3 separate regions of the Homo sapiens genome follow, and regions 2 and 3 are each reported to be linked to region 1. Evidence: microRNA targets listed by miRTarBase, many of them from high-throughput screens and not tested one by one. Region 1 holds a microRNA gene; each other region holds the end of a gene's coding sequence. Distances are from middle to middle.
The links. Region 1 holds the annotated microRNA hsa-miR-1250-3p (ACAUUUUCCAGCCCAUUCA, at 1,293-1,311, shown strand). A microRNA usually pairs through its seed, bases 2 to 8, with sites in the 3' UTR of a target mRNA and lowers its output. Matches are read on the target gene's strand: a 7mer-m8 pairs with bases 2 to 8, a 7mer-A1 pairs with bases 2 to 7 and ends in A, and an 8mer does both.

Region 1 (4,299 bases):
CAGCCATGGCCACTCTCACCACACTGCTCTCCCGCAGACGGCGCCCCGCTCAGCGAGCTGTCCTGGCCATCCTCCCTCGCCGTGGTGGCTGTGTCTTTCTCCGGGCTCTTCGCCGTCATCGTCCTCATGCTGGCCTGCCTGTGCTGTAAGAAGGGCGGTATCGGGTTCAAGGTGAGGCCTGGGGGCCGCGGGAGCTGTCGTGGGATCCCGCAGGCAAGGCCTGTAGCGTCCACTTGACCCTGAGCTTCCCTCCTTCCTGGGGCCATCAAGGTGGCTGCTGGGTGGCCGTAGTTGCTGTGGGGCCACCTGGGGACCACGTGGACCCTGGCCCAGGGACTCCATAGCTCCTCCTCAGGGACCTGCCCCAGCTTCCTCGACTTTGAGGCCCTCTGTGGGGGGCGTGGTCTGACGCTCCCACTCCAGCCTGGGGTTGGGCCCGAGCACTCACGGAGGCTGAGGACAGCCTTGCAGGGGGCGTCGGGGGCTCTGGAGCTGGTGTGGGAGGGGGCTTGCCTCCCTAGAGGCCCGACTCCTGGTGGAGGAGCTGCCTCTGCAAGGGGCTCTCACGTCCCTCCGAATTCAATCTGCAAAGGGGAGTCCGGGCTGCCCAGACAAGCTTCCCGGCACAGGGACCTTCTTGCCAGTTGGAGTCACCTTGCGCGGGGTATCTTCTGCCTTCTGGAGGGGACGATGTGTGATGCTAGAGCCCAGCCTGCTGGTTAGGGAGCCCCGCCAAGGGTGAGGCCTGGCCTCACTAGGCTGCCCCTCTGGAGGCCAAGGCCCCTGGCCAAGGACAGGTGCCAAGCACTGCTCCTCCCCCTGCAAACCCCCAGCCCACCTCCAGCTGTAACTCTGAGCAGCAGGGAGGGCCAGGCAGAAGGAACCCCGGCCAGCATCGCCTCCCCCTCCCAGAGTCTCCATGGGTCCCATTCCTGCTGATGAGCAAATGACACCCTGGCCTGGACCTCTGGTGGTTCACACGCCCACGGGGGTCAGCCCCACCCCTGGGCCAGAGGTCAGATTCCTACGCCAGGAGAAGTCAGGGAGGGAGGAGGGTGGGAGGAGGCATTCTGCAGCGCGCACAGCACCCTGTCTGTATCTCAGGGTGCCTTCCTACTAAGTGACCCATGACTCAGCTGGCGCCACCCCCATTTGGGAGACAGTCCCAGAGTCCTCCCTGCCCCTGGTATGTCATGACGCAGAATGGGCCAAGGAGCTGGCTCTGCCCACCTGTCCCGCTGGCCTGGCAGGTGACGGTGCTGGATGTGGCCTTTTTGCCTTTTCTAAAGGCCACATTTTCCAGCCCATTCAACCTTCCAGAGCCCTCTGAAGTGGCCACAGGCCCCATCAACCAGTGAGGAGCTGCGTGCCTGGGGGGCAAAGCTGTGGCCCCAGGCTGTGGGGTCTGCACTCCTGCCCAGAGCCCCCACCCTGCTCTGGGATGTACCCCTGACCCGCTGGCACCAGGGGCCAGGCCAGGCCGCGCAGGCGCCTTCCTGGGGATCCCGAGGCCAGAGCCTCAAGGTCTTGGCGGGAGCAGGAGTGGAGGTGGGGCCTGGGTGGGACGAGTGGGGCTATTGTATAAGTGGCCCCTCCTTGGGGCACTGTAAGAACAAGGCCCCAAACAAGGGCTGGCCATAGCTCCTCCTCCTGCGCCCTCCTCACCTCCTTGGGAACATGGTGCCCGGAACATTCCAGCACCAGTGTGCCCCTGGGAAGTCCTGCCTCCACACTGGGCTCCCTCCTGGGATTTGGGGACCTGCGCTGGGCTCCCTGGTGGGGAGCTGTGCTGAGGGAAGGGGCTGGGCAGGCCCCCAATGCTGACCCTGTGCTACCTGATTGCACGCTGTATCGGCAGGACCCGGCTGGCCCCCGGGCAGCAGGTAATGCCTGGAGCCCGGGCCCGACCCCAGGGAGAGACAGCATCTGTGTCCTGGGCCCCTCTACAAAGCCCAGATGGGTGGGGCCAGGCCGGGGCTGGGATTGGAGGGCCCAAGAGGGGGCTTCTGGGGTGGTCTTCTGGGTCCCGGGGAGGGGAAGTTGCCCACGCAGCACCTGCGTCCCCCATCCCTGAGTGGCTGTGTGCTCCGAAAGGGCAGGCTGGGCCTGGCCTGCGGGAATACCGACAGAGCCACCTGCCCCTCTCTTTGCAGCCCAGGGAAGGGAGGCGTCCCCAGGGTCACACGTCGTACTTGAGGAGCCCAGGCCTCCCCTCCCACTGCACCTGCCTGTCCTCGGACTCACCAGCCCGGGTGCTGGCCAGCATCCAGCTGGAAGTCCCTTGACTCCTCTGAGCCTCAGCTTCCCCACCAGGGCACTGGGGGTTGTGAGGAAGGACAGAAAGGCTGTACCAAGTGCTCAGGGATTGGGGCTGTCATTGTGTGCCTGGAGCAATTGCTTTCAGCTGGGCCCAGGACTTTGGAGACTTTGGCTCTCAGCGCAGGAATGTGCCCTGGACTTGGGGGTGGGGTATCCCCTATACAGGTGCAGCCTCTACATTTCAAAATAGCAGCCTGGCAGGGAGTGGCCCAGCCCTAGGCTGCACGGGGCCAGGCTCTTAAGGAGTTCTGGGAGCTCCGGAGGTGGTGTGGCCACCAGGTGAAGGTCCAAGGCTGCTGGGGCAGATGGCGGTGGCAGGTGGGCTGCCCAGGGTAAAGGTGGCCGGTTGGCTCTGGGCTCCCAGACATCCAGGAATGCTCCTTGTCCCGGCAGGGGTGGGGGCACTTAATTGCTTCTCCCACAGGACTGTGGGGCAGGGGGTGATGGAATTCCTGTCCCCGAAGCTGCGCCATGGGAGGGTGGGACCCCAGGCACAGCCCGGGGTGAGGGGCTGCTCGGGATGTGGGTGGCTGAGAGGTGCTGGGGGCTGATTCTGGATGGGCAGGGCCAGCTGGCCTGAGTGCCCTCACCTCTGTCCCTTGGTTCCCTGCCTCTAGACCCTCAGGCCCCAAGGTGGGGCTCAGCCTGGGCTGCCCGCCAGGGAGGGATGGGGGAACTGAGGCCAGGCTGAGGCGCTGGTGCCTACAGCTCATCGCGCCCTTTCTGGAGTCTGAGATGGGTCCTCTTGGCTCTGGGATCTGCCTCTGGCCCCTCATGGAACAACTGAGCCTCTGGTCGGGGGCGTGGGGGTCAGCAAGAGGAGACAGATGGAAGGGCAGTTAGCAGGGGTGCTGGGCCATTGGCCTGCAGGGGCGGTGGCTCCAACTCTGGGCCGAGCACCCCCTCCTGCCCTGCCCTGGGAGCTCGGCCCTGGAAGAAAGGGGCCTTTCCAGGCCCAGCCACACCCTTCCTTGACCTGCGAGAAGCCCCGCTCATGCCCGGCCCGGCCCGCAGGAGTTTGAGAATGCGGAGGGGGACGAGTACGCAGCCGACCTGGCGCAGGGCTCCCCGGCCACGGCAGCACAGAACGGGCCCGACGTGTACGTCCTGCCACTCACGGAGGTCTCCTTGCCCATGGCCAAGCAGCCTGGGCGCTCAGGTGAGGGCTGGGTGGGGAGATGGGGTGGCCTCCCTCCGGGGCCCAGGTGCTGGGCGTTGGGTGTGATCTGGGGAGACCGGAAGACTCAGCTCTGGAGTGGGGGCAGCACAGGGCTGGGAGTGGCCTGTGGGGTAGACGCAGTGTGCAGCCCTGGACTCCCTGTGGCTGCGTCACAGGCCGCACTGTGGGGCCAAAGGTGCATGTACCTCTTTCTCCTGGGCCTGGGGGCCGGCCAGGGGTTGGCAGGGTCCAGGACAGCCCTCGGCCTCCAGCCTCCCCTGCCCAAGGGGCTGCTATGCACAGGGACAGGGGTGGGCACGGGGCAGGGGTGGGCACTGGGGCAGGGGTGCGGGCTCTCTGGTCCTGGACATGGCCATGTGCTGGGGGCAGGGGCTCTTCTGCAGTCCAGGGATGCTTGACCCCAGATTCCTGCCCCCTTGAGCGCCAGCCCTTCAGGGACACGGGTTCCATTGTGCATGGCAGGAGGAGGGGCGCTGGTGGGGCCCGTGTGGGCGGGTGGTGAATTAGCCTTTCACTCAGGCTGCGAGGAGGGGCCGAGGGGTGGGGCTGACCCAGGAGTGCAGGTGCAGGCAGGGCCTCAGCCACAGCCTCATCTGCCCCCATCCTAGGGTCCTAGGCCGACCACTCACATGGGGCGGACGTGCTGGGGAGTTTGGGGGTGAATGGCCAGGCTTCAGGACCTCCCAGTTCTGTCTTGGAGCCTAGGTGGTGGGTGCGGGTCCCTCCAGAGCTATCAGATCTCAAGCCCCCTCCCAGGAAGCTTCCAGCCTGAGGCTTCCCCCATCACTGCCCACCCCCAG
Region 2 (4,149 bases), not on the chromosome of region 1:
GTCTTCGGAAGAACCTCTAGCCGCCGGGCTGGAGGGACGCAGGAGGTGGTGGGGGCGGGCGACGGGCGGCTGTGTTACGAGCTGTGACCCGTGTTCCCTTTCTTCCCCGTAGACTCCAGCAGCAGGTCCTGTCACAGGGTTCCGGGCGGGCACTACGGGCGGAGGGCGACGGCACGCCAGAGGTGCTGGGCGTCGCCACCAGCCCGGCCGCCAGTCTATCCAGCAAGGCGGCCACTTCAGCCATCTCCATCACGTCCAGCGACAGCGAGTGCGACATCTGAGTTGCCCATCCAGGATGCTCAGAAGCAGATTCCAGTGTAAAAACGAGAAAAACAAAATGAAAGAGGGGAAGAAGATGAGAGACCTGCAAATCCAGCGCCACAGAAGCCAGGTGACCAGGGACCCGCGGGCTCGGGTTGCCGTTTCCCGCCCCACCCCGCGGCCGGCCTGGCTTCACTGGCGCCCTTTGGCCGCGACCACGGGAACCAGCGGTGAGGCCTGACCCAGCACCACGTTCTTCTTGCTTTGCTTTTTCCTAAGGATTTTGCTGCAAAGTCTCCTTCGGAACCCGAACTGCAAGCTGAGCGCCTGCCCAGATTCTCCCATGGGTATTTCACGTCGAAAGGACGCTGTTACATATGTATAACTTTCGCTTTAAAGTTTTTTTTTAACAAAACATATATATGCTGTTTATTTACTTATTTAAGAGACCGCCATGGTAGGTTTCTCTGTAGCTTGGGGAACTTGCTGTTTCTAAACATGCAGGCTGGTGGTGATGGGTTCTGTGTGGAGAAGCCAAACAATAAAACAACCTAGTGGGCAACCTTCTTAATTAAGGGAGCTGCTCTCAGATTCCTTTTCTTCTTATTATTATTAATATCATTCCCTTCACCAGGCATGCAGGGACCCTTGAGCAAATGGTCTCCGGAAGGTCTTACCTATATATCTTTTGCCTTCTTTGGTGCTTCCTGGTATATGTTTTAAACAACCTATGGTAGGTCTATAACCACCTCCCACGTCAAATTACACGTATGTGCATATATGTATGTACCTATACAAACATATGTATGTACCTATACAAACATATGTATGTATGCATACACGTGATATATTTAAGGCTAGAAATTGGCAACATGTGAGCGTCCTCTCTAAGGCAAGTCCCCGCATCCCCAGCACAGGTAATTATGGCTTGTCCACTTGACACTCGTTTACATGAAGTGTCAACAGCTTTCAGGAGCAATTTAGGAAGCCAAACTATGGGACTCAATAAGTGAGTCCTATTTTCTAAAAATGCAAAACTATCCTGACTCAGGCTCTGCAGCAAGAAAGGCTTTCTGTCTCCTTCAAGGCCCCCTCCAATACAAAAGCAGCAGGCACCCATGATCATGCTAGAGTGAGCATATACTGCATTTAGGATTGAGCTATTATTAAAATAAGACAAAAGATGATAGAAGAGGTTGTAAATAATTAGACTAACATCTTCTTGCTGCAGAATTTGGTTTTAATCAAATGAATGGTTTTTAACAAGAGGGATACTGAGATGGGGGAAAGGATGTAATCATGTCACATACTGAGGGTAAAACAAGGCTGTAGAAATAACTGGCATTTTAAAAACCTAATCTCCGAATTAAGCATAGAACAAGTCATCAAGGGCCTCATTGTCCTGGTAATGGCCTCGATTAAAACATAAAATATTTTTAGCATTTAATTTTTCCTCGTGCACATGCATGTATGCACCTATACATGAACAAATGCATGCATATACAACGCAAAAACATCTACCATCTTTGCACTAAGAAAATAAATGCTAGCCAGAGTCTCTAATTTTGTTCCTAGTGAAACAGATTGCATATTATAAAATTTGACATTGATCTTTAAATCACTTGAGCTGACTTCCCTCTTTACTGTCCCCATCCCCCAATTACAGCCTTTTCCATTTGCCTTTCTGTCCTTAGAAGATGTTCTTTGGATCAGAAGCCTGCTAACTTCTTTAGGCAGAAGTGCCAAAGTGCAAACCAAACAAAAATAAGTGAAGTCATGGAAGACAAAAAGCAGCCAAACGGCAAGATAGACAATGGAAGCCCAGGACAGAGTAAGGGTTGATTTTTGGTTTCTAAATCGCTTGAATAGATTTGGCTCATTTGGGCTTTATAAATGTTGTCCTTGTGTATGGTGGCCCTTATCCAGAGAATTCTTGAAAATCAAAACTCTCTTGCACAAGAGCTTTACATGGAAGGAGTGGGTAAGTTTTCGTGATAAAACTGGTGTTCTTTCCAAAAGCAAGCAAAAGCCCTCCTGTGGGTCCTGAAAGGCTCCCATTGTAGAGCTTCCTCAGTACTTAATTTTGTTTCCTAGAGCCCCAGGTAGTTCCTAGAATGCTAACGAGGGGCTGGCGAGGACTAGAGTGAGGCCAGGAGGGGACTCACGGTCAAGGTTATGCAAGTGCAGCAAGTGCAAGGCACATGAGATTGAGTGCCTCCTTAAATTTTGCACTCTAAGTGCCTCCTTTGCCTCATCCTAGTCCTTAATCTGACAAGGAGTAGCCACGGATATCCACTCTTGTTCCCCAGCCCCACCCCACCCTTAGCTATGGGGCTGTCCAGAACCAGTGTTTGGAGAAGTTTGTTGGCAAATTTTCTCTTAAGTTTATGCTTCCAAGTCCTAGAGGGATGGGAAATAACTAATTAGTGGAATAATGTAAAAGAATTTGAGATTCTAAAAATCCCACTCCACCCACCCCTTCAAATGATACCTAAAAGCAGAAGAAAATGTCCATTCCGCAGTGTCAAGAAAATAGGGTAACTAAGAAACTAAGCTTTCTCTTTACAAAATAATTTTTAAGTGACAGTTTATTGCTTGGACAAAAAGAGAAGACCAAACAGTGATGGAGCATTTTTAATTCCTGCTTTGACAAAAGCCTTTAAACTACAGCTACCATTTACTTAAATTAACAAGCTGCCTACATTTTAAAGTAGCTATTCTGTTTCAACAATCTGGATATTTATTTATTTAATTTCACTTTAGAATCTTAAGGGGGTGACACATTACTTGTAAGATTTTTTTAAATGTTTATCTGTAATGTGATGGCACCTAATTGCCTCTGTGAATAACCAATTCTTTGGTGACCACATATTGGAAATTAGTCCAGATCTTCACAGAGATTTATTTTATTTTAATCTTTCCAATCTTCCCAAGGACATTTAAAGGGTTTCTTTTTAAGACTTTTTCCATATCAGCTTCATTCTGGTCTTCAGGGTTTTGGGGGGAAAAAAAGTCCAGGTAATGGCAAGGCTGAAGGTTTCTGAATTTGGCAAAATCTCTATATAATGGGTTTCCTTCCTTTCTTTTCCTGCAATTCTTCTGTCACAATTTCCCAAAAAGCAGCTACTCCAGCAGAGTGGAAAGAGCATTTTTATATTAAATATTTCAACGGACCTGACCAATGTGAAGATTTTACCCCAAGCCCCAGGTCAGGCTCTTTTCCGGCTTATAAACATTTCAACCACACTCCAGTTTCACCAAAAAAAACGACGGCCCCTGCTCCCCAAATGCCGCAGTTCCTCTCGCCTCCACTTTAATGACCCACTCCACTTCCACCCGTCACTCCCTCCTTTCCCTTCGCCAGTTTGTTTATAAAAAATCTGGGAGGGAGGGGAGAAGACGATGGGGGTGGGGAGGGCTTGCTCTTTGTTTACATTAAACAAATGACAGGCAAAGAGCTCAAGCAAAGTCTTCCTTGACCTCGTTCCCTCTCCCTAATTTTAACAAAAAGGAAAAAAATATTGTATCCAAAGAGAATGTGAATGGGGCGGGAGGAGAGGAGAAGCAGCTTTTCGCTCTATTCAACGGGGACGCGAGAGCGCGGACGATTTCCGCTCCTTTTGTGAGGCGGAGCCCGGGGGCGGCCGTGAATGGGGGGTCTGTGGAGCGGCCGGCGGGGCTGTCAGGCGGCTCTGCGTAATCAGGGCTAATGACGGCGGCCGGGCGCTCGGCGGGACAATGCGCGGGGCCGCGGGGTTTTGTCGGCCTGAATGGCTAATAGGTTTGCCTGTGAGCTGCGAGGGGGCGGTGTCGGGGAGGAGGCGGCGGCGAGGGGAGAAGGGGTCATTGTCCGCGCGCTGGCCCGGGCGCCGAGGCGTGTCCCTGCCT
Region 3 (4,149 bases), 46 Mb from region 1:
ATATTTTTACTTTGTGAAGGTTTGTAACATTCTTTTCTGTAATTATAATTCCTATATATCTTAATTATATACATGTGAATGGATTTAAACTTAACTTTGGTCCAATTATAATAATCTTTTATTTGTACATGTTGCTTGCTTAGCTAGATTTCCTTACTGAGTAACTTTTCTTCAAGAATGATTCATGGGTCCTGTATTTCTAGAACTCTTTTATGTTCAAAAATACCCATGTGCTGCCTTTGTACTAGAATAATATTTTGACTAGGTTTAATATTTTTAGGTCAAAATTTGTTTCCCTAAGAACTGTACACATGTTGCTTCACTGCCTTCTTAGATGCTTCTGGTCAAGATAGAGGAACAGGGACCATATTTATCCTCCCTCCTGAAACAATTGCAAAATAAGACAAAATATATGAAACAATTGCAAAATAAGGCAAAATATATGAAACAACAGGTCTCGAGATATTGGAAATCAGTCAATGAAGGATACTGATCCCTGATCACTGTCCTAATGCAGGATGTGGGAAACAGATGAGGTCACCTCTGTGACTGCCCCAGCTTACTGCCTGTAGAGAGTTTCTAGGCTGCAGTTCAGAGAGGGAGAAATTGGGTACAGTGGGACAGGCCTTCAACTCTTGTTTTATTGAATTTATGAACTTCTTAAATTCTTCTATGGCAGGAGACATCTATGGGGAGGCTTTGTTTGTTTTTTGAGACAGGGTCTCACTTTGTCGCCCAGGCTGAAGTACAATGGCCTGATCTTGGCTCACTGTAACCTCTGCCTCCTTGATTCAAGCAATTCTCTTGCCTCAGCCTTCTGAGTAGCTGGTATTACAGGCATGCACCACCACACCCAGCTAATTTTTGTATTTTTAGTAGAGACAGGATTTCACCACGTTGGCCAGGCTGGACTTGAACTCCTGACCTCAGGTGATCCACCTGCCTTGGCCTACCAAAATGCTGAGATTACAGGCGTGATCCACTGCGCCCAACTTATGGTGAGTTGTCTTTTGTCCCCTGAGTTATATATCCTTTCAGGATGGGTTCTTCATCTGGCTCATGTCATATTTCTTTTCTACATTTTTCCCCATTGTCTTTCGCCTAATGATCAGAACACTTATCTTTCTAATGCTTAATCAGGGCAGCTGGGTAGAGTCTTTCTTTTTACCTTAAGATAGTATAGAAGGGCTCTCTTTGACAACTTTCTTAGATGAAGTAGACTAGTTTGGCTTCTTCTCCAGTGTATAGCTGGAGGCCTGGGTGGTGTCTTCCATCTACTTTTGTGTAGCCTGATATGATCTGGTGTGAGATGAGGCCCTCGCTGTTAACCTGGTTTCTACTCTTTATTGTTGCCTAGGAACTTCCATTAAATCCACTGAATTCCATGAAGGAGGCAAAGCATCCAGGAATAAGACACAGCCCCCTTCATTGAATTCATGTGAAATCCTGGAAAATCCCTCCTGTGTCCACGGAGAGTCCCTGGGGACAATCAGGAGTTTCTGTGCTCAAGGGTCTCCCTGGCATTTCCCTGAGCTGCCTGCTCAATACCTCCGCCACCACCCTTCAAACTGGCCATATTAACAAGAATTCTGGTTTTCTTTTCTTTATGTGACATCTATTCATGACTACACTGGGCAGATGAGATAGTAGCTATGCCTTTATATAAAACTTTTAAATTCTTTTTTTTTGTTTTATTTATTTAATTTTTGGAGACAGGGTCTTGTTCTGTCACCCAGACTGGAGTGCACTGGTATGATCATAGCTCACTGTAACCTCAGACTTCTGAGGTCAAGTGATCGTCCTGCCTCAGCCTTCTGAGTAGCTAGGACTCCAGGTGTGCATCACCATTCCCAGCTAATTTTATTTATTTATTTATTTGTTTGTTTGTTTGTTTGTTTTTGTAGAGACAGGGTCTCACTATATTGCTCAAGCTGGTCTTGAACTCCTGGGCTCAAACAATCCTCCCACCTTGGCCTCCTAAAGTCCTGGGATCACAAGCATGAGCCACCATGCCCAACCTTTTCTAGTTTTTAAATTTTCATACATATCTATTAGATGTTTATAGTGTAAGGTTGAACTCCATTCTTTGCTTCTCTGTTGCTGGTAAATTTTTGGGTATATTTTTACTAATTTTGCACATTCTTTTACATATTGGTAAAGGAACAGTCTGTGATCTGGATTTATTCAGATCCTTATTCAGAATTACCAATTGTTTTATTAATCATTTTATCTTAAATGTGTCTCTACTTACTAGTGATTTGCAGTATATTCCAAGTTAGTTGTAAAAACATTTCACAATAGACTAATTTCTTGCTTTCCTGTGAAATTGTCTCAAATTTAAAAAGTAAAGTTCTTAATATTGTAAGTAGCTGCCAGAAATAAACCAATTCTAGCTTCAAGTTCATACTTCTTACAATGAGAATTTTAAATTTCTTTATTCTTGGGAAATAGCAGGGCCTTGCTGTTTTTAATAGTGAATTAACTCTGAATTTTTTAGTTTCTGTCTCTCAGAAAAGATGGATTTGTTTGGCTTTAAATATTGAGAGAGTTTCTAGAGACCCACAGGAAATGAGAAATTTGCACTTTTGTAGCAATGGCTTTTGAAAGACTAGCTAACATCCTGAAGACTCAGCAGAAGAAAGATATTAAACTGACTTTGTCGTTTTGTTGATTATTAAATTAAATGGAAAAACAAAATGTAACCTTTGAGTCCAATAGACTCATCCCCCTAGGCTCTCTATCATCTTCAAATCAATCAGTAAAACACAGTGTGCCTCCCTGGGGGACTGTGGCAGTCTTACCTTCATGTAGTAACCTAAGACGCTCCATAAGAATAAAAAATCAGAGCTAAGGAACAGATTCCACATAACCAAAAGGCTCACAAAAAGCATTTTAAAATATAGTGATCAAAAACACTAATGTCGTTAAAAGAAAAAGCAGAAAATAATAAAGTAATATAATGTGGTCTTGCAAAAAACAGTCTGTGATCTTACATTTCAAAACATGTCTTGCCCGTTCCCGGCACCTACAAGGCCAGATGAGCTACCTGCTCCATCCTTCACATTCTCGCTGCACGTCCCATTCAAGCTCTTCTGCAAGTGGCCATGTTAAAAATTTATAAAAATATCCGAGTCTGCCTGGCACGCTCAGAGATTCTCATGACAAGTTCTTCCCTCACTGAGCACTTCCCTGACCACCCAAAATAATCACCCCCTCCATCTACCTACACACATGTGCACGTGCGCGCGCGCACACACACACACACACACACACACACACACACACATCTCTGAGTCTCACGGTCCTCTAATTACTGATATCCCTTTTTACCATGGGAAATTCCTTGTCTATCTGTGTATTTGTCAGTGGTCTGTCTCTGCCCTAAAGGAGGAATCTTACATCGATTCGTTCTCAATCCCCAGCACCTAGAAAAGTATGTGACTTAATAAGTGAGTGTGTGCTTACATGTTTGGATTAAATGGTTTCACAGTTAATTAGAGATGAGAACCACTTAATTGTTTCTTAGGCTTGGGTTTCCTGTCACACAGAAGCCTTCAGAATATACAGATGTCTTTTTGCCCTAGAAGCCAAACAGAGCAGAAGATTGTAGGCCCCAGCCGGTGGGGCTACTCCTGGATTGATTCCAAACACGATATTTCTTTCCAGGCCTGAAAATCGACAGACACTGTCCAACACAATGTGATCGGTTAGAACATCCGACGCATCACCGATCTGTAGTAACAGATCAGACTCCTCATGGAGCTGAGACAGTTTTCTCTTCCTCATTGCTGTTAGAAGCCTGTCTTTATATTTTTCCACTTCACTTGCTTTGGTGAAAAGCACAGCAATATCCTTCGGAGAATAACCATTCCGCAAGAGAAAACGGCATTTATTCGCTACATAGATCAGTATCTCCTCCAAGTTCAAGTCTTCAATAATCTCTAAGTTGCCTGGGACACCTTGAGCCCATTTAGGTTCATAGAGCATCACCAGGGACCCAGGGGGGAGGTTAGGTGGAGGATTTTGTCGGGCTTCCTGCATTACTTGTTGTAGGTAATTAGCTATTGGACCTGCATTGCGGACCACTCTGTTGATCTCTTCTCTTGGATACTGGTCTGAGGGAGGGGGGAGGCCACTGCAACTCAAGTG

Region 2: miRTarBase lists SIX6 as a target of hsa-miR-1250-3p. Seed matches in the 3' UTR shown: 7mer-A1 at 335-341.
Region 3: miRTarBase lists SLFN5 as a target of hsa-miR-1250-3p. Seed matches in the 3' UTR shown: 7mer-A1 at 2,222-2,228.

Annotation. Positions count from the first base shown.
Region 1 is chr17:81,130,240-81,134,538 of GRCh38, reverse strand. MIR1250 (microRNA 1250) reads left to right here and starts at 1,231; the gene lies at 1,231-1,343. AATK (apoptosis associated tyrosine kinase) reads left to right here. Exons shown (of 14, transcript NM_001080395.3): 2 at 38-171; 3 at 3,334-3,478. LOC124904079 (a long non-coding RNA gene) reads right to left here. Exons shown (of 4, transcript XR_007065937.1): 2 at 1-143.
Region 2 is chr14:60,510,972-60,515,120 of GRCh38, forward strand. SIX6 (SIX homeobox 6) reads left to right here. Exons shown (of 2, transcript NM_007374.3): 2 at 113-1,879. The coding sequence ends at 281. It also overlaps a transcript of C14orf39 not described here. Among named protein-coding and RNA genes, the nearest start is that of SIX6, 3.9 kb to the left of the region's middle. RefSeq lists enhancers at 43-814, 3,888-4,149 and a silencer at 4,111-4,149.
Region 3 is chr17:35,265,280-35,269,428 of GRCh38, reverse strand. It overlaps SLFN5 (schlafen family member 5), which reads right to left. Exons shown (of 5, transcript NM_144975.4): 5 at 1-4,149. The coding sequence ends at 3,541. Among named protein-coding and RNA genes, the nearest start is that of SLFN5, 24 kb to the right of the region's middle.